Linked DNA regions of Homo sapiens. The protein of the gene in region 4 purifies or fractionates together with the protein of the main gene of each other region. This does not show direct contact. Each region holds a gene or a part of one and is shown on either strand. Other genes may lie near its edges. The genes, in order: MARCHF8, BTBD2, SHROOM3, CEMIP, DYNLT2, CROCC2 and LMO7.

Region 1 (3,500 bases), on a different chromosome or scaffold from region 4:
AGTTCTTAGGAATCTTAAGTTTACTTGGACACATGAAAATAGCATCCTTGAAATAACCCTCCCATCACTACCTTTGTCAATATTCTTCCTGAAACAAAATGAAAGACATCTAGGGATGCCTGTGGACACTATGCTGTGACATCCCTTGCATCTTCTAGGCCTGACTGCATAAGCCATTGTCCTTTTTCTCCAACTGCCTTAGACACTGTCCCCTCTCCAGCATCCTCCTCTCGGGGCACCCATCACTGGCTCCACCTGCCCCAGAGACAAGCACTCAAGGCCTTTTAGTACAATGGGCTTTACTGTTTATACCACAGGGGAGCAGATTGAGAGGGTATCCATGCTAAGGTCCCCAAACTCCTACAGTCCCCCTGTTCTCTGACATTTAGTCCTAACACTATTCTGGGACTGAAAGCCTTCCTGTACTTATTGCTCTCTTCTTTTATTTCTGAGGATGACCAGCTCTGTTCAACACACATAGGCAAGGCTAAAATGTGTCATGAAGACCAAAGCCTGATCACGGTGTATTGCAGAGAAGTAAGCGTCTTCATCACCTGTCCCCAGGTAGACTTTGAGGAAGAAATACCCAGCAATATCCACATGCTTGCCCCTCATTGCTATGAGGTCACTTCTTCCTCTGTGTTGCTGGGTCAAGCATACTCCCTGGAACTGATGAGGCATTGAAGGAAGCCCCCTTCCTTCAAGGGATGGCAGCAGAGGAAAGTACCTAGTCACCCTCCTCCCTTTTATCTTAGTAAGAGCATGGTCCTCTTGGAACCACGTGTACTTTCCTGTATTCTGAAGGGAAGGCAAACCCTGTTGGGAGGAGGTAAGGTCTTATCTGGAAAATCGTGCCCAATCAAGGTCAGTGTCCTGGGTCCGGGAGGCAGGTTTCTGATGGGAAATTAAAGTTCTGAACTCCAGTACTAAACTACAAGTAATCCAAGTCAAAAAGTGTACTCTGGGGTAACGATTCCATCCTTGCATGCCCATGATGAGGAGCAAGGCCTGAAGGTAGGAGGGCAGAGCCTCGTAACAAAACAAAGCCTGGATCAAGGAAGCAGCCACACCAGGCACACACACACGTCAGGACATGTGTTCACTTCCCTGTGTGGTTCCCCATGTGTGTGCACTTGTAGCAGATGTCAAGGCCAGCATGACAGTGACAGCGGACCCAAGGAGGAAGGGAGTTCTGGCAGGGCTGGGGAGATTCTGCCCTGCTCAGTTTTACTTAGGAAATAGGAAACAGCGTTGGCATCCTCTGCCTACATTTCTGCTCTCATTTCACCATTTCCAATCTTATGAAAACATTACAGGATACTCTCAGCAGGTATGTCCGATCCTCATCAAGCCTCCCAATGACAGAGAAAGAGTCTCTCTTCTTATTAGATCACAGAATTTAAAGAAAAATTTTAAAATCTACTTATTGTTATTTTACATAAATATAAACTTCAACAAATGCTAACTCTTCCAATAAAAGCAAGAAAACCAGTGAGATCTGTGGGGTCTTCACAGCTCCCAGAAGAGGCTCCTTCTGTCACGATCTAAAGGACAGCAAACATTTCAAAGGTCAGAACCAATCCATAGGCAGAATGGTCAAGAAAATAATTTTAAAGAGCTTTATTTGTTGCTGCTATAGACCTGAGAGAAATCTATCAACCAACAAAGACCTAAAAGACTGGCCTGATCAACAACAAAATGAAGCTGACAGCTTCAAATAATGGTTCCATGGTCAGATTCTGGAAGCCAGTGTAATCAAAGGCCAGCAATCCCCTCTTAGGAGCTCTGCAGGACAGAACCTTACTAGATGGGACAGGACCTCACTAGATGGGACAGGACCAGCCGTCCTGCTCTTTCTGAAAGCAGCAGGCAGTGTGGCACGTGTGAGCCGGGGGCAGTACTAGCTCCAGAGAACACCTACACTCTCCTCTCCATAGGATCAGACCACACACGACTCGACAATTACTAATAAAAGTGCAAATGTTCATCATGCAAAAATCCAAATGTGTCAAGAAAACTTAGGCCCTCTGTTCCTGAAGTTCTTTGCGGGTTGCCAAATGACAGACTCTCCAGTCATGAAAAGGAATATAAAGCAATCTCACTACAAAAAAAAAAATTCTTGTAAAAATCCTCCCTTCTTCAGATGTTGTAATTAATTATGCCAAAACAAACCTCTGGATTTCTATCCAAGCCTAAATCCCAGTTTATTTTATTTCTTAGAAATGATAAATACTTTTTGACAATTTGTTTTGCTACATCCAAGTCTTTTAGTGGCTGGCTTTGTTATCAAATTCACCATTTTAAATGATTTTAACAAGGTTGCCAAAGAACATACGGGGAAAAAAAACTTTTCCATATATCCTTGGCAGAAACTGGCATTCCCCTTTTCTCAGTTCCCTTCTGAGAGTGCCTGCTGTCGCTGGAGCAGCTATAGCAGTGTGTTTACCCAGTTGATAGTGCACACATCCTTCTCACTGCAGGACACCAGCGCACCTTCCTTGGCCTCTGGCGCCTTCTGCCAGGTTACTGCCCAGCCTCCTCTATTACCCACGCCCCTCATTTTCTGTGCAACCCCCAACTGGGCCTCCTTTTCACTCATCAGCTAAGCTACTTTTAAACATTTGGGTCTCAGGCCCCTAACAAAAGCAAATTTGCCCATCTGATTTATTTCAAAAGGGAGAGGGCCACAGGAATGATCTGTTTGAGTGAGCTTGTTTTTAGGCAAGGAGGAACGTGAAGACAGGCTGGATAAGGATGGTTAAGAGGCCAGAAGAGCTCATGTTTACAACTCATCACAAATTACAGTACTGCAAATCAATGACTTAACAGAAACAATGGGAAAAGATGCACAGATGGCTCTCAAAACATGAAAAGATGCTTCATTTCTCTCACAATGAGAAATACAAATTAAAACTACAATGAGATACCATTATCAGCCAAGAAAATTAATCAAATAATATGTGTTGGCGGAAGTGTTGGGAAGCAGGTATGCTTATACATTGCTGGTGGGAGAGCAAATGGTAAACCTCCACAGGATGACAACTGCCCTCAGGATGACAAAGGCACATATACTTTGTCTCAGCAATTCTTTTAGGAATTCATCCTCACACACCTGCGGGAAGAGGTTTGTACACTGCACTAGTTTGTGACAGCAAACGGCTGGAATCACCCTAAATGCCCATCACCTTGGAGCTGAGGCAACACTGTTCCATCTACAGAAAGAAATATCAGCAATCATTAAAAAAATGGGAAAAGTTCTCATTATGTCCAGTAATGAACACACAAAGTGAAACAAGCAGAGAGAGGCACCACTGCCATCTGTGCTGGTGCTGCACAGACTACTCAGGAGGGAGACCAGGGAACCTGGATGGAGGGACATGGACTTGTCACAGAGACCCACAAAACCATAATGCCACTTTACACTGAGCAACATTTCCCAAACAGAAATTCATTCTTAAAATAACAGGTGATTGATGATTTTAAAAAGTAAAACAAAACTG
Region 2 (3,500 bases), on a different chromosome or scaffold from region 4:
GACTGTACATGGACAGCACAGAGTGGCGTCTTGAGCCTGGGAGCCGTGGAGTTCTCCCCACCCCATACAGACCTGGCCAAACGCGGGTTCATAGCCGGCTCTTGGGGAGGCACCAGCAGCCTTTCTCTGCTCACCGCACCCTCCTGCCTGTGGCGATATCGAAGATCTGAGCCACTGAGTGGGCCCCATAGGCAGCCTGAGCTTCACACGGGGCAGAACCCCCAGCGTCCTCACAGCCACCGCTTTCCCAGCTGGGGCCACCCCTGCTGCCTCCTAACGCTCCTCCCACGCTCCTGCTGTTCCTGGGCCTCCATGCCCTTCCCCATGGACGTGGCGGCTCAGATGACCCCACAGGGCTTCCCTGGGCCTTGCGTTCCTGATGGGACCACGCTCCTCTCTCTTCTCTCACTCAGTGGGGGCTGTTCGGCCATTTGGTCCTCGTCTGTCTCCCTCAGTGAGGCCAGGCCCTGTGCCTGTAGCTGACTCCCTGGGAAAGCTTGTGCTGATGAGGGAATGCGTGAGCAGGAGAGTGATAGAGAGTAGACGAGTGTGAATGAATGAGTGAATAATGAGACTAAGTGGATGAGTGCATGTGGGAATGAACGAATGTGTGTGTGTGTGAATGGGTGAGTGAATGAGTGTGCGATGAATGAGAAAGTGAATGAATGCATGTGTCATAAATGAGCAAGTGAATGCATGCCCACGGGAATGAATCAGTGGATCAATGAATGCATGTGTGGATGAATGAATGAGTGCATGTGTATGAGTTGAGTGAATGTACATGGAAATTAGTTAATGAATGAATATGTGAATGAATGAGTGAATGAACGCCTGTGTGAATGAATGCATGTGAATGAGCGAGTGAATGCATGCATGAATGAACGTATGTGTGAATGCATGTGTGAATGAACACGTGTGAATAAATGCATGCATATGGGAATGAGTGAATGAGTGCGTGCCTGACGCCTGGAAGGAAAGAGAGAGGATGGTGAGGGCTGGCAGAGCGTGAGGCCCTGTGTGGCCCAGGGCATGGTCCTAGCCCTGCCTGTCCTTGCCGTGGGTCCGTCTGCATCACCCTCCTGCTGTCCCAGGCCCCTTCCAGAAGCCTCTGCCATCGGGGGGCCTGGTACATGCCTGCTGGAGGCTGGCAGGGAGCCCTAGTGGGGTGGTCACCCAGGATACCGGGCTGGCCCTCCCGGCCGTGGGGTGGCGGCCACGGGCTTAACCAGGGCCTTCTCTCTCCCGTACCAGGTTCGTGCTGGCCGTGGGCAGCGCCGTCTTTGATGCCATGTTCAACGGGGGAATGGCCACAACATCCACGGAGATTGAGCTGCCCGACGTGGAACCCGCTGCCTTCCTCGCACTGCTCAAGTAATGCTTCCGGATGCTTCCTGCTGGGGAGCTGGGCCTGGGGAGGGGGACCTCAGAGAACGTAGACCCTGTCTGACACCAGCTCAGAGGCCCTGGCTTGGTGGAGATTTCTAGAACGTTCCTGTGCAATGAGGGGTTCCAGAGGCACTTTTTTTTTTCTTTTTGAGATGGAGTCTCGCTCTGTTGCCCAGGCTGGAGTGCAGTGCCGTGATCTTGGCTCACTGCAACCTCAGTCTTCCAGGTTCAAGTGATTTTCCTGCCTCAACCTCCTAAGTAGCTGGGACTACAGGCTCGTGCCACCACGCCCGGCTAATTTTTTTGTATTTTTAGTAGAGATGGGGTTTCACTGTGTTAGTCAGGATGGTCTCGATCTGACATCATGATCCACCCACCTCAGCCTCCCAAAGTGCTGGGATTACAAGCCTGAGCCACCGCGCCCAGCCCAGAGGCACCCTTTTTATTTTATATTTTTTAGACGTGGTCTTGCTCTGTTGCCCAGGATGGAGTGCAGTGGTGTGATCTCAGCTCATTGAGACCTCCGACTTCCTGGTTCAAGTGATTCTCCTGAGTACCTGGGATTACAGGTGTTCACCACCACACCCAGCTCATTTGTGTGTTTTTCAGTAGAGACAGCGTTTCTCTATGTTGGCCAGGCTGGTCTCAGACTCCTGGCCTCAGGTGATCCGCCTGCCTCAGCCTCCCAAAGTGCTGGGATTACAGGCATGAGCCACTGTGTCCAGCCAGTTCCCTGCTTTTCTTTTTCTTTTCTTTTCTTTCCTTCTTTTTTTTTTTTTTTTTGACAGTTTTGCTCCTGTTGCCCAAGCTGGAGTACACAAACAAAAAATAACAACAACAACAAAAAAAAGGAAACATCAGTGAAAGAAATTTAAAAAGACACAATAAATGGAAACACATCCCATGTCCATGGATTGAAGAGAATATTGTTAAGATGTCCACACAACCCACTGCGATCTGCAGTCAGTATAATCCTATCAGAATTACTGTTTTTTGCAAAAATAGAAAAACTATCCTAGAATTCATATGGAATCCCAAGGGACCCTGAATAGCCACAACGATCTTGAAAAAGAACAAAGTTGGAGGGCTCATACTTTCTGATTTCAAAACTCACTGCAAAGCTACAATCATCAAAACAGTGTGGTACTGGCGTAAGGACAGAACGTGGGGACCAATGGAATGGAACAGAGAGCTCAGAAATAAATACCTTTGCACATAGGGTTAAATAATTTTTTGCAAGGGTGCCAAGGCCATTCAACAGAAAAGAGAGTTTAACAAATAGCACAGGCACAACTAGAAATACACATGCAGAAGAATGAAGTTAGACCCTTACCTTACTGTATATAAAAATTAACTCAAATAGATCAAAGTCCAGGCTGGGCACGGTGGCTCACGCCTGTAATCCCAGTACTTTGGGAGGCTGAGATGGGCGGATCACGAGATCAGGAGATTGAGACCATGCTGGCTAACATGGTGAAACCTCGTCTCTATTAAAAATAGAAAAAATAAATAAAAAATAAGAAAATTAGCCGGGCATGGTGGCGGACGCCCGTAGTCGCAGCTACTTGGGAGGCTGAGGCAGGAGAATGGCGTGAACCCGGGAGATGGAGGTTGGAGTGGACTGAGATCATGCCACTGCACTCCAGCCTGGGCGACAGAGCGAGACTCTGTCTCAAAAAAAAAAAAAATAGATCAAAGTCCAAAATGTAAGATCTAGACCTGTAAAATACTTAGAAGAATCCAAAGTGGCCAGGCGCAGTGGCTCAGGCCTGTAATCCCAGCACTTTGGGAGGCCGAGGTGGGTGGATCATGAGGTCAGGAGATCGAGACCATCCTGGCTAACACGGTGAAACCCCGTCTCTACTAAAAATACAAAAAAATTAGCCGGGCATGGTGGCAGGCGCCTGTAGTCCCAGCTACTCAGGAGGCTGAGGCAGGAGAATGGTGTGAACCCAGGTGGCAGAGCTTGCAGTGAGCTGAGGTCATGCCACTGCACTCCAGCTTGGGCAACAGAGCAAGACTCCCTCTCAAAAAAAAAAAAAAAAAAAAGAATCCAAAGTATGGCTAGGCGCGGTGGCTCACACCTGTAATCCCAGCACTTTGGGAGGCTGAGG
Region 3 (3,500 bases), on a different chromosome or scaffold from region 4:
TGCACTTTCAAGCTATTCGCTGAAGTCCCTCAAAAAGGGCTGGGGAAGATATAAAGGTTAATATTACTTTTTCTCAGAAGTGTCATTTAACAATTGGCCTCCTTCCCTAAAAAAAGTTTCTAGATTTTAAAATTTTCCTTTTGACTATGAAACAAGAAAATTACACACACCGTTGGCACTGGCCAACCAGCAGCTGAGAACAGTGTCGGGGTCCTGGTGCTGGATTAGGAGGCTAGGGACTTGGGTTCAAGTCCTGGCTATGAGACTTCTAATAATCCCTCTAAGCTTCACTTCTGTTATTTGTAAAAACGAAAAGTACAGTAGCTTACCTGCCCTGCCTACTCACAGAAAAGCTAAGAGGAAATTAGTTAAAGTGCCATGTAAATCCAAAGTCTAATGATTTTGGTGCAATCTGGTGATGTGACAGGTCCTTTCCCCACCTGCCTCAAGAGGCCCAGTCACCACGCTGATTACATGGACCTTGTCAATTTTTCTGAGGAAAGCTGAACAAGGGCATCCCATTCTTTATTTACCTTCTTTTCATTGACATCTGCCTGTTCCTCTTCCTCATTCACTTCTGCTGGCATCTCTTTGATTTTGTTCAGTAGCTCAGCCTTGGGAGCAGACACACTGTAGTAGGCAGGGCAGTTAACCAACATGCTCACTGCTTCCTTGTCTTCATTCCTGGGCCAAAAAGAGCACAAAGTATAGCCACACAGATCACGCCAGAGGCTTTGTTTCACTGCAGATGTCAGTCCATTCAGAAGTGCGTAACAATTCTATTTAATTTCTTTCCCAGAAATTAGGATAAACTAGTAACTGTTAACTAATGAGTGATTACTATGTACAGGGCTGTTGAAGCCAGGCAAACTTGGGATGGAAAACCACCAAAAGCAGCATTAGGGATGACAGTGGGAGTCAAGGCTATGGCCTCGCCAGCTGACTCTGGAGAAGACATTTAACCTCTCTGCTTTTGTGATTCATATAAGAACGACACTGACTCCTTATTTCAGAGAAAGGCAGTGTGGAACCATGACTCAATCAATGTGAAAGTATTTTCAAGGTGCTGCACAAACCTCAGGTTTTAGGTCAATTATTTCCTATACTCCTTTGGTTACATGTAATCTTTCTAGTGCCTACTATGCACTGTTGCTTGAACACACAAAATTTTTCCTTCTCAAGTGTGCCTGCTATCCCATATAATCCTGGGAAATCTGCAGTTTGCTGGTCCGCAGTGAACTAATACAAGATATAAAATCTACTCATTGATAATATAATAGGGATGTTTTAAGGCTGAAGAAAAAACTCAGAATTGAGAAACCTGCTATCTAGTAGTTCTCTGTTTTACCACATTTGAGTTGCCTTTCAGCCTATAATTCATATCCTACCCACTGAATAAATGACTCTATGGAAGTACGATTCTCTTGGAGAGGAACTTTATTTAATCTTGTGATATTATTTAACATCTAGCCCATCATTTTACTATGAAATTAGGAACCACACACACAAAAAATCATCTTTACTAGTTTCCTGCTTGATAACTGTCCCAGTAAGCAACAATGACCACATTTAATCCAGTTAATTGAAAGACAGGGAAAAGATTTTCTGATACATTTTTGTTTGTTTTTGTTTTCAGATATGTCCACCGCATTACAAATGGGATTCTCTGGCATCTGACCAACCCTCACAATGGCTACTGGCCATCTCATGCCCAACAGGACAATGCTTATTTCCACCAGGAGATGGCGCATGCCTTTTTTTTTTTTTTTTTAAATCCCCAGGAAGGTCTCAGTGCTGCAAAAGCTCCATGACCATTCTGCTTCTAAACTGACGGAGCAAACATATATTTCCAGTGGTAATGCTAGGAAATACTTTGCTAAGGATGTTACTTTGGTCCTTCAGCCAGTGGTCAGAGAACAGAATGACCATACTGCAACCACCCATGGTGAACTGACTGGCACACCTACAAAAATCTTATCTTTGGGGTCCCCATAGTACCCAGTGGATTGCCTTGCACATTGTAGGTGCTCAGTATGTGTTTGCTAAAGACATGACCCTGGATAAATCACTTCACCTCAATTAGTCTGTTTCCCAAATCTGAAAATAAAAGCAGTGAAATGGACAAGGTGACAGTTAAGGCCTTGAATCAGAAGAGCCTCTGACAATGTGACAAATAGCTTGTAAGTATCACATAGCTCTTTCCTTTCTCTCTCCCCCATAAAATGAAACGTGGTGTTCCTGTTAGTAATTTAGTTAGGATCAGTTGGAAATTTTTAAAATGCAATCCCAAATTTGGATAAAATGTTCTGTTTTTATTTAGTCTGGAAGCCACTAACTGCTGAGTCCCAGACTGTCAATCCACAAAGATTTCACTGAAAATTTAAGAGAAAATGAAAGCTACTCAGTCTTTCTCATAGTAGTCTTTTAAGGAAATAAAACATGCAAGAAAATACTGCAGTAACCCAGGAGAAATGAAAAGCACAGACTGCACACTGGGACACGTGTTACATGGCTGGCTCAAGGAGCTTCAGAAGCAGAGGCTCACGGACTGGGCCAAACCAGACAGTGCGCTCCTACTCAGACCTTTCCTGATTTTCAGGATTTGCGCCAACACCCACCTTAATGCCTCAGAGGTAAGGGTCAGTGTAGTACACGAATCTATTTCTCTAGGCTCTCCTCCTTACAAAGCCCTTCCCCTCTCAGTCTTGGCAAGACGTTGGCCACGCTCACCACTTCCACTTGCTCCTTTCCCAGCACCGAGCTCTGAGGGCCTCTCTGCCAGAGCAGCTCTGATACAGAACCGGCAAGTACACCTTTGCTGAGCTGGGGGCACTGTGTAATTGCTGGAGACAGGCACAGTCATGGGGCTGTGATCAAATCCAGGTGCCATCACTCACATGTTCAATGACCTTGGTGAGCATGGTCTTAATTCCTCTGTACTTCAGTTTCCTCATTTGTAAATGGAGGTAAAATTGGTAGCCACCTCAGAAAGTTCTTGTGAAAATTAAATAATGTTGATATAAATAAATTAATACAATGTTTGACACACAACGTTAACAATGGGTACTAATGGCAATTATTATAATTATTACTATTACTTTCTTTGTTGTTGCATATCTGTCCCACATCCTCACTGCCAGAGCCATTCCTCCAAGACTGAGATAAAATGTCACTCTTGGTTCAGGAGCTGTGGCAGTAGGAGAACATCAGGCAACTAGTCCTAGACTTATCATCATCCCCATGGAAGGAGTGTGATTGTAAGTCTCTCTGAGGACATCACCAGGGACTTACCTCTTGCCTTCACATCCTGAAGAGCTGACAGTTCTCTGTATGGCCTTCCTCTTTACACTGTTTTCCTTCAGCAAGTTCACATCTCGGGGAAACAAACCTTCCATCAGGTCCATTGTTGTCTTCAGCCTGGAGTCTGGATCCAAAATGTCTGCTAGAGATTTGTCTTGGTGGACAATTTCCTTGGCCAAAGCCTCTGTTCTGATGTCTTC
Region 4 (4,172 bases):
CTTTCTGGAAGAGGCCTAGAGGTGGATTGCAGGACTTCCCAGTTTAACCAGGTGACAAAGGCTTCTGCTTCAGCCCAGATGTGATCACAGACTTCCACAGCTTCTGCCGACCACAGCCTGGCCTTAAAGTCCAGACCTAGAGTCCCGGAGCTAGTGTGTACTACACAGAATGGAGACCTTGCCTGAGGAGCTGGTTCTCAGAGAACACTGGCAGGAAGGAAGAAAGAAATGTATATTCTAGGAGGCCTCTGCTAACCAGGAAAGGGGGCTGAGTCACACTCTGAAAGGTGGAAGAGGCAGAGAGCAGGTATCAACGCCCTCATTTTACAGATTAAAACAAAACAAGAAAAACAAACACTCCTCACCTCCCTGCAAAAAAACCACCCTGAGGCTCAGACAGGGGAAGTAGCTGGCCCTGGTCACACAGTAGGTTAGCGGCAGAGTTGAGAGGAGACTCCATATGCCCTAGGGATGTGTTGTGATGAACTTTTCCTACTGGTACTGTTTCCTCCCGCGAGGGAATGTCTAGACCAGCCGCACCTTCTTGCTTTGACCCTTCAGAACTTTGGCCTGTCCAGTTAAAGAGGCACAGAGCCCTCCTACCCACAGGGAATGTTTCTAACTTACCAAGCACCTATTATGTGCTTAGAACTTGGACTTTCCTGATCTCATTTAAGCCTCACCATTCTAGTGAGGAAGCATCACAGAACCCATTTTCCTGATGAGGAAACTGAGACTGGGAGGGGTTAAGATCCTGTACACAGTTGTAACTGGCATGTCTGAATCCAGTTTCAAACCAAGGTGCCTTTCAGTGAACACCCAAGCATCTTCCTCTCGGATTAACTGCTAGGCCAATACCAAAATCTCTTTCTCGGGCTACTCTTTTGCTGCTGAGTTAAAAAGAGATCCTGAGACTTAGCCTGGGACCCCGACTCGCGGCGATTCTGTGGCAGGCGCAGACCTTTTCTCCTGTCCTCCACTGCCTCTTTGCCTCGGAGGGCGCCCCGGGGCGCGAGCGGGGCACGGGCGACCCTGGCTCCTTGGAGGCCCGGGGACTTGCTCTCCGCGGTCCGCCGCGGCCGCTCCACCGAGTCCTGGCCTCCAGCGCCCTCACCTGGCTGCTGCGGGCGGGACTCTGCGCACCCGGGCTCCGCGGGCTCAGGTCTGCGTCTCCCAGAGCCGCCGCCAGAGCCCGCCCCGGTCCGGCCCGGGCACAGGGCCCCCGCCCCACTTGGGCAAGGCGGGGGCGCGTGGAGGGAAGTTTCATCGGGGGGCGAGGGAGGGAGCTTCGGTGCCGCGCGGGCGTCAGGGGCTCCTCGGGGGAGGAGTCAGTAAAAGTGGCTATAAAAGCGGCCTCTCGGCTGAGGGCCGGGGAGCTAGCGCTCAAGCAGAGCCCAGCGCGGTGCTATCGGACAGAGCCTGGCGAGCGCAAGCGGCGCGGGGAGCCAGCGGGGCTGAGCGCGGCCAGGGTCTGAACCCAGATTTCCCAGACTAGCTACCACTCCGCTTGCCCACGCCCCGGGAGCTCGCGGCGCCTGGCGGTCAGCGACCAGACGTCCGGGGCCGCTGCGCTCCTGGCCCGCGAGGCGTGACACTGTCTCGGCTACAGACCCAGAGGTAAGAGGGCCTGGCTGGGGGCGTCAGGGATGAGCTGACGGCCCATGCCACGGAAGAGAGGTAAGAAGTGGGGGCCCGCGCCTCCACCCGGCACAGGGTAAACGTTACCCGCCTCAGTTTCTGTTTGTCTGTCCACCCTGTGCTGTGCAGTCTACCTCTATCTGTCTGTTTGTCCATGCGTCTGTTGATGGGCACACGCTCTTGGCACTGTCCTCTGTGGGATTTCTCTGAGATCTTGTGATGCTTTACAAGCTGCAGGTGCCGGGGGGCGCTGGAGTCCCCAGAGGGCATCCAGAGGGGGCAGACTCCTGCTTTCCGTAGATTTTCCCCCTTCTGAATGGCACCGGGGGCTTGCGCCCGGGAGAGTGTCTCGCCGAGGAGGGAGTACCACAAGGGTCAGGTCTCGGTGTCCTGCCGACTGGGAGCCAGCTCACGCCGAGCTCTAGCGGGCGTGCGCCTAGCAACAGGTCTGCGCCCTGCTGCTCCTGCCTCAGCACGCTCTTCCTCCCAGTTTCCCTCGCCTCCCAGTGCCTCCGGGACAGCGCTAGGCACCCAGCGACGCGCTGGCGCGGGGCCGAGCTGAGGCAATTGCAATGTTAGATGAACCCGGGGGGCTCTGCTGATGTTTAGACTGAGACTCCAAACGTGGCATCGCTGGAAGAAGGTCTGGTGGTCCCTGGCAAAGGACGTCGGCTCCAAGAAAGGTCGCGTTAGGTTGTGAGGAAAGGCAGAGAGTCCTGGCAGAACGCTGGCCAGGTCTCCAGCTCGCCGCTCTGGGAACGAAGGCCAGTGACATTCTGGAATGGACCCCAAGGGATGCGTGTGCTCATGAGAGAGGAGCGCTGTGCGCCCTGGGTCCTCAGCCGCAGACACTCTCTGCGACAGCCGCTGTTCCCCAAGGGTCGGACGCTACGGCAGTCCCAGGAGTTCCGCCAGCTGCCGGGTTTGAGGTCCTGAGTCCTTCTCCAAGCAGCCAACGCTACCCACAGGTGAGAGCTCCCTTTAAAAACTAATCTTCTGATGTGTGAGCCAGTGCCTGGCTGCAGCCCCATACCAGGGACGGTGAGCCGGGGAGCGCGTCTCTCCATCCCTGCGGTCTGGAAAGTGATCCAGGGCGCGCCCGAGGGCGGGGAGCCGGCGGCTCTGCGTGCCCAGGCGCGACGCCACCATGGACAGCTCCCAGCCACTTCCTCCACTCGGGGTCTGTGGCCCTGGGTCTCCGGGGAAGTCGTGCGCTTTCTTCCCAGACCCAAGGCGTTGGGGCGCTGGGAAAGAGGAAAGGGACTGAGAGTCCGCTGGGGCCCTCGGTATTACCACTCAGGAGGCAGCCCAGCCCTCAGGAGTCTGTGGTTTGTGACCAGGTCCTAGCTGAGCCGGCAGTTCTGCAGGACCTCCCGGGGGCACTCTGTGGTTCTCTGGCTTTTCTATGACACCACGGAGACCCCTCAGAGCTGTTAGGAAAGTATGGCCCCTGAGAATCCGACCCAGGCAGTGAGATAATGCCAGATACAATTACGCCAGACATAATTAGGGATCCAGCTCAAACTGTTTTCTGTGTAGGGCACAAGTTCATGTGTTCCATCAAATTAAATTATTTATTTAGTACATATGGGATTGGGAGGATATATTAGTTTTACGATTAATGATAGAATGGAGAAGAAATCAAATAGAGCAAATTTATAGAGAAGGCAATCGGATGCATTTGCAAAAGCAACTATGCGGTTTTCTGATCCTAATAGTTTTGTTCAAAGCCCATGACTTTCTTAAAGCAATTTCCAAAGGCTCCTTTTTAGCCCAGTAGATGACTTTTCAAGTTGGTCACTTGAAACAGGGTGGAAAAACCTGTAGGGTTTAATCTGTGCACCAAATTAAAGATCTCCCTTCTCTGGTAAGAAACGACACTGGATGGGGCTCTTTTTGTCATTTCCACCCATACTGAAGTGTGTATCTTCCTTTATTTTAAAATTACAAGAAACGCAGGTCTGCTTTTTTTGTGTGTGACTGACAAAGGCCGACGGAGAGTAAAAACAAGTAAACACCTCTTATAAAAAAAAATTTTGAGACAGCATCTGTGACTTTGGGAAAGTTGCTCAAATGTTTTGTGCCTGTTTGCTGATATGTAAACTGGGAATAACGCAATGCCATCTTGCAGGGTTGCTATGAGAATTACAGTAATTGGTACAATGTAAAGCATTTAATCCAGTGCTGAGCATAGAGAAATCGTTTTAAATGGTAGCAATTACAGGTATATTTTAAAGACAGTTGTGCATTTCTTTTGAATTATGTTCACCATCCCTTTGCCCTCTCTCTTAACCTAGTAACTGTTTGATAGGGACTCCATCTTCACTTTATTTTTGCATCCGAGAACTTGTTGATGGAATTGATGAAAATGCTGGAGTTGATCACAATGAAAAAAAAATTCTTATTTAAAGACAAATGGAAGAACTTTTATGTGATAAAAATCGGTCAACTGTTTTCCCCTACCTACACTACTTGGAGGAAAGATAAAAGTAAGTTGTTTTCAAAATACTCTCACAGCCCTCTGGTTCAGATGA
Region 5 (3,500 bases), on a different chromosome or scaffold from region 4:
ATATAAGCTGAAACATTCCCCCACTGCACATCATGCCACTATCTACTAGCTACTAGTCCAGCTACACTTGTTACATATCAAGCACTCCAAGTCATCCCTGCCTCAGGATCTTTGCACTTGAAGTTTTCTCTGCTTGGAACATTCTCCCTTCTCTTTGGTACAGCTGGTTCCTTCTTATCTGAACATCAGAGGGTTCTCCCTTCTCTAAACAATCCCAAGTAGCCACTCTGCTACTCTGTCATATCCCTACCTTAATGTTCTCTTTGTAGCACTTATCATCTACAACGTCCCTATTTCTTAAGTCTGTATGTCATATGTGGTGCAGCTTCTCTTCTCCATGGGAGCCAGGACGGTTCTTTCTTGCTGACTGGCGGTTCTCTCGCCAGTACCCCTCTGCCAGTCCAGGTCCCCCTCCCCATGCTTCATCATGCAGTCCACTCCTCTATGGAACCTCTACAGATTCTTCCAAACACAGCTTTTTCTCTCTTTTCTCTCCAACTCCCACATATTCCTTACCAACTCCTTACATAATTACACAGCCTAGTGATATTATCTCTTTATTAATAAATAATGTTTATAATTACCTTGCTGTTTATTGAGGGCTCTGTGCTGGTGATTATGTTAAGGATTTTAATACAGATAATTTCATTTAATCTTCACAACAGCTCTAGGAAGCCAGTTTTATCATCACCATTTTATAGATGAAGAAACTGTGCCAAGGCCACAGCCAGCAAGTGTGGCAGAGGCAATCTGACTCCAAAACCCAGGCTGTTTACATTATCCCTATCATTTTATTTCCCTGAATTCTAAATTGTGCTGCTTTATCTCCTTAAGTAGAGTAAAATCTCCTTGAGAATCATGGTCCGTGTTTTATCATTCCTTGATTTTCCTTAGTACCTAACACCTATTAGTGCCCAAAATAAATTTACTGGTTAACTTAAATGACATTAAACTGTCAAAATTGATATGATCAAGGAACAGAATAGCAGTGCAATTTAATAAATTAGTAGTACCAAATTGCTACTTCTAGGTTTGTACTTTTCTTTCTTTTTTTTTGAGTCTGTTGCCCAGGCTGGAGTGCAGTGGAGCGAACTCGGGCCACTGCAACCTCTGCTTCCCAGTCTCAAGTGAGTCTCCTGCCTTAGCCTCCCGAGTAGCTGGGAATACAGGCACCCACCACCATGCCCAGCTAATTTTTGTATTTTTAGTAGAGACGGGGTTTCACCATGTTAGCCAGGCTGGTCTCAAACTCCTGACCTCAGGTGATCCACCTGCCTCAGCCTCCCAAACTACTGGGATTACAGGCATGAGCCAACGAACCCAGCTGGTTTGTACTTTTCAAATAATTTACAGTGAAATAAATATACTTAACAACATGATACTTTCCTTCAAAAAGTACCTCAGAATCTATGGCATGCCCTTGAGTCATCACAATAAAAATCAAATCACTAGGGAGGAGATGCCTTATAGTTCTAATTGCTAGATCCTGTATCAATGGGGTACTTACATTTATTGCTTGGCCAGTCTTTTGAATAAATAATACTTTTATAATGAACTTATAACGGTGGTACCCAAATTCTTTGACTGCTAACAGTATGCGGTCTGCCAATTCAAGTGACAAGTGAGAGAATACTTTATCATCATATTTGACATCTTTAAGACTTTCCTTTAAGAAAATTTAAGAAAAATACTTTTATTTTCAAACCAAATATTTTCTATATAAAAATTCAAGTAGAAAACATGTCTAAATAATATATATATAACTGTTTTAAAATAAATATATTCCTAACTAAATAATATTAAATAAATTTTATGCTTACCTATTTCAGTAACAATTTTGAGGAATATTTATTGGGGTTTTCAAATTATATTCAATTACTTTTCATTAGCGATACAAGCTGTAAGTTGTAATTTACTAGACTACTCTGCCAAACAGTTAATAGACACAAGGAGATTTTCTAAAGAAGACTTCTAGAAGGTAAAGGAAATTCTTAGGTAAAGGAAAGAAACCTTTTTAAATTTATACATTTATTAAAATTCAGATTTTGGTTTTCTTATACTGAAGATTACTTGGACTCAGAACCTGTACCAAGTCACTGCCCTGCTCAGTGGGCTCATATTAAAACTACTTCTTTCCAGCCCTCCCCTCTAGTCTCTCACTCCACTAATTTTTCTCTGGCCTCCAGGAAAATGAAATCAAAGATTTCTAACCATGTTTATTAATAAATTAATGTATAGCTTGAAGGAAATGGACATGGCTTGTGGACTATAAAGCATTACTCTTACAAACCAGGAGCAGAACTGGACACCTAGCAGACAGACTACACATCTCTGATTAACTAACTTGTTGTGCCTGCACCAATGACACAATACCTTCTGGTTCTAGTGACAATTGTATGAGCCAATTCCTGGAATAAATTTCTTCGTATATATAATTTCTGTTTCTCTGTAGAACCCTCATACAATACTGCTATCATATATATTTATCAACCTACTGTTAGTATCTGCTGGACTTTAGTTTCTACTGAATGAGCTTGGAATTTCTTCAATGGCTCCATTCTATATGAATTAGCAAACTTTAATTTTGCCAGGGCACTCTTCCATTCTTTACCTATATCAGCAATTGAGTCATCAAAAGGAGGCTCCACATACTGAACATTGTGAATTGACTCTCTCAGTCTTTCTCTTAAAATCTGTGTATACTGGAGGAGAAAGAGAGAGGGGAAGAGAGAAAGGCAGAAAGATTACTTTTTAAACTGTAAATGAGTTTTCAGATTAAATAAGCCTGTACAGTGGGACAGGGCTCACACAAAGCTTGGAAATTTGTTAAACAGATTTCTACAATAATGTGGTTGCTAAATCCTAGATTCACTCCTGGCTATCAATTTGGCAAAAAAAAATAGGAATACTATTTATTCTTTTATCTATACTCACAAACATATACATACAAATTGCATGCATATATTTAGAATATCCATGGATGATCCAAAGGAACTAGAAACAAGAGTGGCCTCCAGGGAGGGCAACTGAGTGGCTATGGGATGGAGATATAGGGAAAACCTTTCTTCCTCCCTACCCTGAGATTATGAAAATATTATCCTTCATTGTCTTAAAATTTTATTTTACTTCATTTACTTATTTTTAAATAATACAATTATTTAGATAGCACATTCGTAAGTCTTAAGGTGAAAAGACACCAAAAGAGCATTGATTTGATATATATATCAGTTCATGCTTTTGACATGAAACATCCATTCTGTGACATCCAATATGCATTAATGAAATATTTGCTTAGTGCCCAATATGTCCCAGATAAATGCTCTAACCTCTTAAGTTAAAGCAGTAAGCTTCATTTTATTAATAGCCAGGAATTTCTTTTTCTTGCCTAATTGCTTGGCTAGAACTTCCAGCTCTATGTTGAAAAGAAGTGGCAAAAGTGGACATCCTTGCTTTGTTACTAATATTACAGGAAAAGCTTTCAGTGTTTCCCCATCGAGTAT
Region 6 (3,500 bases), on a different chromosome or scaffold from region 4:
CCCTGTTGCCCACTACCCAGGCCTCCTCATGGCCCCTTGACCCCAGAGCCCCACACCCACCCCCTCCCAGCTACTCTCCTGCCACCCTTGCTCATGCAGCCTCAGAGTGGCCGCCAAGATCAAGGAGAGCCAGAGGTCAAGGTAACCTGTGGGTCACCCAGCTGTAGGGACAGGCCTGGAAAGCCGAGCCGGTGTTGCCGGCTCCACGACCCATCCACAAGCTCCCACCTCCAGCGTCCTGGGGGACTCGAGCTTGTTCTCCTTGGGAAGTTTGTTCACCATCCCAGGCTGGATGGCGCAGGGGGAGGGGTGGGAAGGGCAGGTGTCTTTGGACTTCCATCCGTGGAGCCTGGGGGACAGCCCCTTGTCCCTCTGCTGTGTGCTGCTGAGGCCCTGCAGGAACAGGGAAGGTGCCCACACAGCCACCCAGGCTGGCCCTGCAGAGTGGGCTGCACCAGCTGTGGGCCCAGGGTTCTGATGCCCTCACAGCCCCCTTCTGGGAGTAGGCAGGGGGCCCCCATCTGTGAAGTGGGGAAGGCAGGTGCTGAGGCCTCAGGGGTGAACCCCAGAGCAGGGTGGCCCTTCCCAAGGACTCACTGCCACCTGCAGAAGGCCCCGCAGCCCAGCCTGCCCAGGGAACAGGGGCCAGCAGGTCAGGACAGTCACGAAAGCCACCAGCCAGCTTGTCCACAAAGGACCACCTGCCCTCCAGAGTAGGGCCAGCCAATGGGGTCCAGTCACCAGCCCCTGCTGCTATTACTGAAGGGGGCCCAGCGCCATGGAGCCAGGGTGTTGGGGCCTCCCGTGGACGCTGCTGGGGGTGGAGGAGCAGGGGGCTTGCATCAGCCCTGGTTGCGACAGCACTGCCCGGGGACGCAGAGCCAGCTGTGGGCACAGTGCCCACCGTGAGTCCCTGGAGCCTGAGGAGGGGGAGGGAAGGAACAGCTAATGAGTTCCAGGAGGTCAGCTGTGAGGGGCCCACAAACCCATAAACCCTTTATTGGTGTCTCAGGAGGGGAAACCCGGATGTGGCCGTTTATTTATTTTGGATTTCACTTTTCTCTTCTCTTTATAACATGCACTTCCAGGAGTGTAACTGGATTTTTAAAGAAACAGGACTTCCTTTTTCAGTGCAGGGGACTCTCTGTTTTTCTCAGTCCTGAAGAAGAAAGGAACCCTTATTTTTTGTAAAGTTCCAACCACTGACCCTGTAACAAACTTTACCCATGCAAATTATCCCCTCTGTCTTAGGGCCCGAAACCAGGCCTGCTCCAGCCCTGAAGCTAAGAGGGCAGGTTTGTGGTGTGCCAAGTGTGTGCACTGAGCCCCAGGTCTGCTGCCCAATCCTGGGCCAGGGCCAGCACCCGACAGAGGGCATTGGGGCCAACAGAGGACTGACCTGGCACTCCAGCCCAAGGCTGTCACCCCTGTGGACACAGCCCCAGCAGGCATGACCCTCGGGGCTGGGCACGGCAGAGCCTGGAGGCAGCCTGGTTGGGAGAGCAGGGCCTGGGTTCCAGGCCTGCCTCAGCGCCTGCCTGGCCCAATGAGCCTGTGACATCATGGGATCCCTTCCACACCAACTCCCCATGAGGCATGCCCCAGGCCATCTGGGGGTGCTGGAAGCAGGCTGTCTGGGGCTGGTGGACGGTGTTCCTCTCCCAGTGCTGCTCTCTGTAAGAGAGAACTCTTAGATTCAATCCTTTCCTCCAGAGGGCCCATTCGCAAGGGAACAAAAGGTCCCTGCCAACTTTCCCATAGAAAATGTCTGTTTCCTGGGTAACCTTCCCTGATTTTTAACCTGGAGCTTATCCCTCCTGACCTGTACCCATGGGGTAGGGAGTGGGTGACTAAGGAGGGAGCACATTGGGGCAGCCTACAGCCTACAAGGAGGACAGACGGTGGGGATAGTGATGCCAATGCCACAGGCTTGTTGGGATTGAGACAGCAAGTGTACCCAGCTCTCAGGGCCTGTGCCTGTACGAGCTCAGCAGATCCTGAGTGCCAACAGCAGAAGGCAGGTGCCAGAGAGTGCAGGGGATCATGGCTCATGAGACCTGGAGGAACACTGAGAAGGGGTTTGCGGGGTAGCTCCTGGGATGTCACCTTAAAAGATGTAGGGAGTCCCCCATTGAGGATGTTGATGGGGCCATCTGCTGCTCTGTAGCTGGATGGGGACTTGGCCCTATGCTCCTCCTTAAGCTGTCACTCTGGCTGCAGATATTGGATAGACCTGGGTGAGGCCAGGGGTCCTGGCCCAGGGCAGTGCCCTTCCTGACGCTGCCAGCTCTTAGGGGAATTCAGAGTCCTTCCCAGAGGCAACCCTGTGCTCCCAGAGGAGGGCTGGCCTGACCTCACTCCCTGCCAGGAGGCCACAGGTTCTGCCTCCTGGGATCTCTGCAGATGGAGCAAGAGACACTGAAGAGGGAGGAGGATGTGGCGAGGCTGGGGGCTGAGAAGGAGCAGCTGGACCAGTCTCTGAACAGCCTGCACCAGGAGGTGGACGGAGCCCTGAGGCAAAATCAGCAGCTGCAGGTCAACTGGGCCAGTGGAGCTCTGCATACCCCAGGCCTGGGGGCAGACCTGGGGTGGGATCCAGGAGGGTGTCAGTTCCAGAGGGGTGGCTGGTGTACCTCCATCTCACACGTGCACACATGGGGAGGGTGGCTGGACCAGCTTCTGCATGTGATGGATACAGACTCAGACCAAGGCCCCAGGCAGAGCTGGAACCAGGACCCAAGGCTCCTGCCCTTCTTGAGACATTGAAGTCCCCATGGGAGCCAGGCCCGGGCTCTGTAGAGCAGCACAAGGGCCAGGTGAGGGAGGTCAGAGAGGCCTGTGGGGCATGGCCAGAGGCTGCTACCTGCTTGTGTTAGGGCGAGGAAATCCCCTGAGGCCTAGGGGCCTGACACCCACAGAAGGGGCCTCAGAGGCTTCATTCATCCTGTCCACATTGGACATACCCCCATCCTCAGAAACCAGCAGGGGATGGGGGCAGGATGGGCAAGAATCAAACTTCGATGCCCTCCGGACACCCAGCCCAGCCAAAAGGAACCTGGGGTGCCATGAAAACAGATTTTAGGCCCACCCTGGAGGCTGTGGCTTAGTCTCCAGCCCAGCCAAAGCCAAACCCAAGGCCCACGGGCTGAACATGTGCACCTAACCCCAGGTCTGCTGGGCAGTCCTGGCCAGGTCAACACCGGCAGAGGGCAGTGGGGCCCACAAGGACAGGTGAAACACCCTGTGGCACTCCTGCCCTGGGATTCTGTGCGGCCCTCAGTGAGAGACAGCAGTGAGATGCCCAAGTTCTCACTCCAGGCCCAGATGACAGAGATGGAGCAGGCCCACACCCAGCGGCTCCAGGACCTGACAGCTCAGCACCAGCGGGACCTGGCCACAGAGGCAGAGCGTCTCCATGGGGCCCGGCCGCAGGCCACGCAGGCCCTGGAGTCCCAAGAATGGACCCACCAGCAGCAGGTAAAGGTGCTGGAAGAGCAGGT
Region 7 (3,500 bases), on a different chromosome or scaffold from region 4:
CTAGGAAAACAGACTAGCATTTAATCCAACACCCATGACTTTCCTGGATAATCCCTAAAGAAATAAGAGCAGAGCATACTTCTCAGGAAAGTTGGGCACCATGGAGGCCACGGATGGGGCTGGAGCATGGACTAGGTACCCCTCCCAGGCACACACAAAAGCCACTCCCTGGTACCCTGTTTTTTGTTTGTTTGTTTGTTTGTTTGTTCTGAGACAGAGTCTCACTCTGTCGCCCAGGCTGAGTGCAGTGGCGCCATCTCTGCTCACTGCAACCTCCGCCTCCTGGGTTCAAGCAATTCATCTCCCTCAGCCTTCCGAGTAGCTGGGATTACAGGGGCCCCCTATCATGCCTGGCTAATTTTTGTATATTTAGTAGAGATAAGGTTTCACCATTTTAGCCAAGCTGGTCTCAAACTCCTGACCTCAAGTGATCCACCTGCCCTGGCCTCCCAAAGTGCTGGGATTACAGGCGTGAGCCACCCCGCCTGGCCCCTGGTATCCCTTTCTCATTCCATTTGCCACAGTGGCCTAAGTGTCCCCTGAAGAAGAAGGAATAATCTTTGAAAGTTTCACAAGTTGTGCATCATGCACTTTATGCAATAGGTATATGTAATCAGCAGGAAAAAGGGAAAATAAATTGCTCTGAAGTTTTATAAAAGAGCTCAAGGAATCTTCCCTTTGCATTTTCCCTAGACTTGCCCTTCCCAGTCTCCACCTGAAAGTTATTTCCTTTTTCCACATCTCCACACACAACAAAACCGTGAAATTAGGTAAACTTTCTAACAAGCCTTTTTGAACCGGCTTTTCAAAAGAACTGCCACATGTAAATATATCCTGTCTCACACATTATTGTGCTAAAGAAGAATGTTGAATCCTACAGACTTCCAAGCTGATGTAGTTGCACAGAAAGCAGCGTGTTATACATTACGCTTTTGTACTAAGTCCACTAAGTGAGTCAGGTTTCCTGATTCAGTGCAATCAGGTCCCAGGCTAATGGAGCAGCAGAAGCAGGCAGAGGGTTGTCTGAGGCCAGACCCGCAGCAGGCAGGCTCATGCAGACAGGGGCACCTGGGCTCATCCGAAGCACTACTGCTTCTCCTGGCTGCATGGGAGTCCGGTGATTTTACAGCCCGTTTGGTAGCTAATTCCAGCAAGAGTGAAGGTCTTTGGCAGTTGCCGTCTAGCCTATGCTCTGCTTTTTGTGCTCTACTAAAAACGGTGGCGCTTCTGTCAGAACCTGAGTCCTCATCCTCAGAGTCTGAATTCCTTCTACTGTGAGTGACATGAAGAAAAGAAGGGAAGAGGGAATGAGACAAAGAATTGGAGAAAAACAGAACTACTAAAAATAATGCCGTGCTATGACTATGTATAGAACAGGGCTTTTTAAGATCTAGATCCTCAGGTTTAAATTTAAACAGAAATTCATTTCCATTATATAGGTTCCGCAGATACTAGAGAACTAATTAGACTTTCTCTGTCTCTCTTATTATTATAAAAAACATGCACATAGAACCCCAGCTGGGGTACTGAATGAACACTGGTGTGACAGAAACATGCACAACGACAAACCTGAATCCCTGAAATTCTTTATACCATGGCTTATAAGTTTCCCTTTTTATTCTTTTCCAGTTCACATCTTCTGGGGTCCAACATTTGGGAAGAAACTGATCAAAAGCATTCCCTGGGTTTGGCATGACTGGACTGAGCTTGCGCACATAAAGATCATCCTTTACAATGTTGGGTATGCTTCTTGTCTTTGCTTTTTCCTCTTCCAAATAACAAGAGGACTTTGAAGTTCCTTGTACAGTTGGCCAGTTCTCCACATTGGTGCCCCAAATCCTCCTCTGATTACTGTTCAAAACATCCAACCGGTTAAGACACTGTATGAGCATTTGTGACACAGAACACAAATGGCATGCTTTCTGGTTCACAAAGTTTACACCACTGTGAACAAAGCAAATTAGTTTCCATTCTCATCACCACCACAGCTCCTAGGACAAAGTTATTATAACAGCATCTCATTTTAACTCAAGGATAGCTAGATACACACGGGCCAAAGATACTTCATTAGAAGCTGTGTTAAAAGGAAGAGGCACATAACAAACAATTTGGGGTGTTACTTTCTGAATTAAAATCAGCAGCATAATAGACAGCCAGATCCAGGACAAGTATTTCTGACCTCGTCAGTCCATATAGCCCCATGGCAAACATATCAGCAGGAGAAAATATTTGCGGACAAGAATTAGGATAGGTGATTTTCGAGATGAAATTCTGGGGCCTCTTTTTCACTTGGAATCTACGGTTGGCTAAGTCATCCAAAACTATGTCAGGAAACCTTCGTTCATCCTCAGAGTCCGAACCACTTTCAAAACCGTACGCCTCCCCATGAGAGGAAGCTGGATTTGCAAAACCACACTCTGTTCTGCTAATTTGCTGAGAAATTAAAGGATTCTTTTCATGTCCACTAAGATCAATCAAAAAAGGAAAAACATTACATGGCATGGCTCATCATGAACAATACAAATTATCTGGTAAGCTGAAAAATACCAATAAACTGAAGTCATGCATCTAAAAAAAGACCTAGCAAATCATATGCTGACATTCTAAAACAGAAGAAATGGCTTCAAGATATGTATAACTAAAAATAGAGGGATGAAAAATATTCTCACTAGTCAAGCTTAATATATGATCTATGAAACACATTTAAGAGCCATTCTTTTTACCACATTTAACATCCTACCATATTCGAAAAGCATACGAAACTCAATAATCACACCCATCTCAGTACCTTGAAAATGTTCCATCTGCTTCTGTATAAACCGGGCTTGCCCAACTTCTTCTGTTATCCTCATGTTTGTCTGGCTTTTTCTTTCTCAGAGGTGCTGGTACATAGGATGGCTGTCTACTTTTGTTGGGTAAAAAACGATTGAAGGGTAACGCAGTCTTTGGCTCAACAGCCGAAATCCTTCGATACGACATATCATCTTTATTATAATCCTGCATCTTAAATGTAAATTCCGAATCTGTGTCACTTTCAAAACCTATAAAGAAGGCACAAGAATTTGCTTTACTCTCCAGATTATTCGCCTAACTGAAACCCACACAGCGCGCCTGCTTTGTCTTTCCCTTAGAAACCCAGTGCTGCCACTGCTAACTGCAGGGAATATTTTTAGAAATTTGTCACGAAGTTGTGATAAGATCCATTAGGAGGAACTTGCTTTGCATACTGGAGGCACATGCAGTACATTCTTTTGCTGCTGTAGGCTCTAAGAAGAATAAGTCCTATTTTACTAGTGAGCCCCTTTTTTCTCAATCTCTTCCTCCATGATTTTCCATAAGATTTGTTGATGTAATACATAGAAATAAAATCTAGCAATGGAGTCACAGATACTTAAAACAACATGCAAAAATAATTCTGGGAGAACTCAGTAATTTAAAATAAGGCATGCAGCTATCTATAATATATGTGAGGAGAGAGATCAGGAAGGATGTAGAAAGAG

The links.
Region 1: the proteins of CEMIP (region 4) and MARCHF8 purify together in Homo sapiens (affinity purification with western blotting; one study listed by BioGRID). This does not show direct contact.
Region 2: the proteins of CEMIP (region 4) and BTBD2 purify together in Homo sapiens (affinity purification with mass spectrometry, with the first as the bait; one study listed by BioGRID). This does not show direct contact.
Region 3: the proteins of CEMIP (region 4) and SHROOM3 purify together in Homo sapiens (affinity purification with mass spectrometry, with the first as the bait; one study listed by BioGRID). This does not show direct contact.
Region 5: the proteins of CEMIP (region 4) and DYNLT2 purify together in Homo sapiens (affinity purification with mass spectrometry, with the first as the bait; one study listed by BioGRID). This does not show direct contact.
Region 6: the proteins of CEMIP (region 4) and CROCC2 purify together in Homo sapiens (affinity purification with mass spectrometry, with the first as the bait; one study listed by BioGRID). This does not show direct contact.
Region 7: the proteins of CEMIP (region 4) and LMO7 purify together in Homo sapiens (affinity purification with mass spectrometry, with the first as the bait; one study listed by BioGRID). This does not show direct contact.

Annotation. Positions count from the first base shown.
Region 1 is NC_000010.11:45,465,872-45,469,371, forward strand, and holds part of MARCHF8 (E3 ubiquitin-protein ligase MARCHF8), read right to left. Parts: intron 1-3,500. UniProt on the Homo sapiens protein: E3 ubiquitin-protein ligase that plays several important roles in innate immunity and adaptive immunity.
Region 2 is NC_000019.10:1,995,215-1,998,714, reverse strand, and holds part of BTBD2 (BTB/POZ domain-containing protein 2), read left to right. Parts: intron 1-1,251; coding exon 1,252-1,371; intron 1,372-3,500.
Region 3 is NC_000004.12:76,756,729-76,760,228, reverse strand, and holds part of SHROOM3 (protein Shroom3), read right to left. Parts: coding exon 3,292-3,500; exon of another isoform or gene 3,141-3,291; intron 2,181-3,140; exon of another isoform or gene 1,637-2,180; intron 685-1,636; coding exon 534-684; intron 1-533. UniProt on the Homo sapiens protein: Controls cell shape changes in the neuroepithelium during neural tube closure. Induces apical constriction in epithelial cells by promoting the apical accumulation of F-actin and myosin II, and probably by bundling stress fibers.
Region 4 is NC_000015.10:80,777,998-80,782,169, forward strand, and holds the start of CEMIP (cell migration-inducing and hyaluronan-binding protein precursor), read left to right. Parts: upstream 1-1,372; 5' UTR 1,373-1,617; exon of another isoform or gene 1,618-4,127; intron 4,128-4,172. UniProt on the Homo sapiens protein: Mediates depolymerization of hyaluronic acid (HA) via the cell membrane-associated clathrin-coated pit endocytic pathway. Binds to hyaluronic acid.
Region 5 is NC_000006.12:169,741,573-169,745,072, forward strand, and holds part of DYNLT2 (dynein light chain Tctex-type protein 2), read right to left. Parts: intron 2,703-3,500; coding exon 2,496-2,702; intron 1,667-2,495; coding exon 1,508-1,666; intron 1-1,507. UniProt on the Homo sapiens protein: May be an accessory component of axonemal dynein and cytoplasmic dynein 1. Candidate for involvement in male sterility.
Region 6 is NC_000002.12:240,986,336-240,989,835, forward strand, and holds part of CROCC2 (ciliary rootlet coiled-coil protein 2), read left to right. Parts: intron 1-2,403; coding exon 2,404-2,535; intron 2,536-3,318; coding exon 3,319-3,498; intron 3,499-3,500.
Region 7 is NC_000013.11:75,803,830-75,807,329, reverse strand, and holds part of LMO7 (LIM domain only protein 7), read right to left. Parts: intron 3,042-3,500; coding exon 2,789-3,041; intron 1,852-2,788; coding exon 1,570-1,851; intron 1,273-1,569; coding exon of another isoform or gene 1,069-1,272; intron 1-1,068.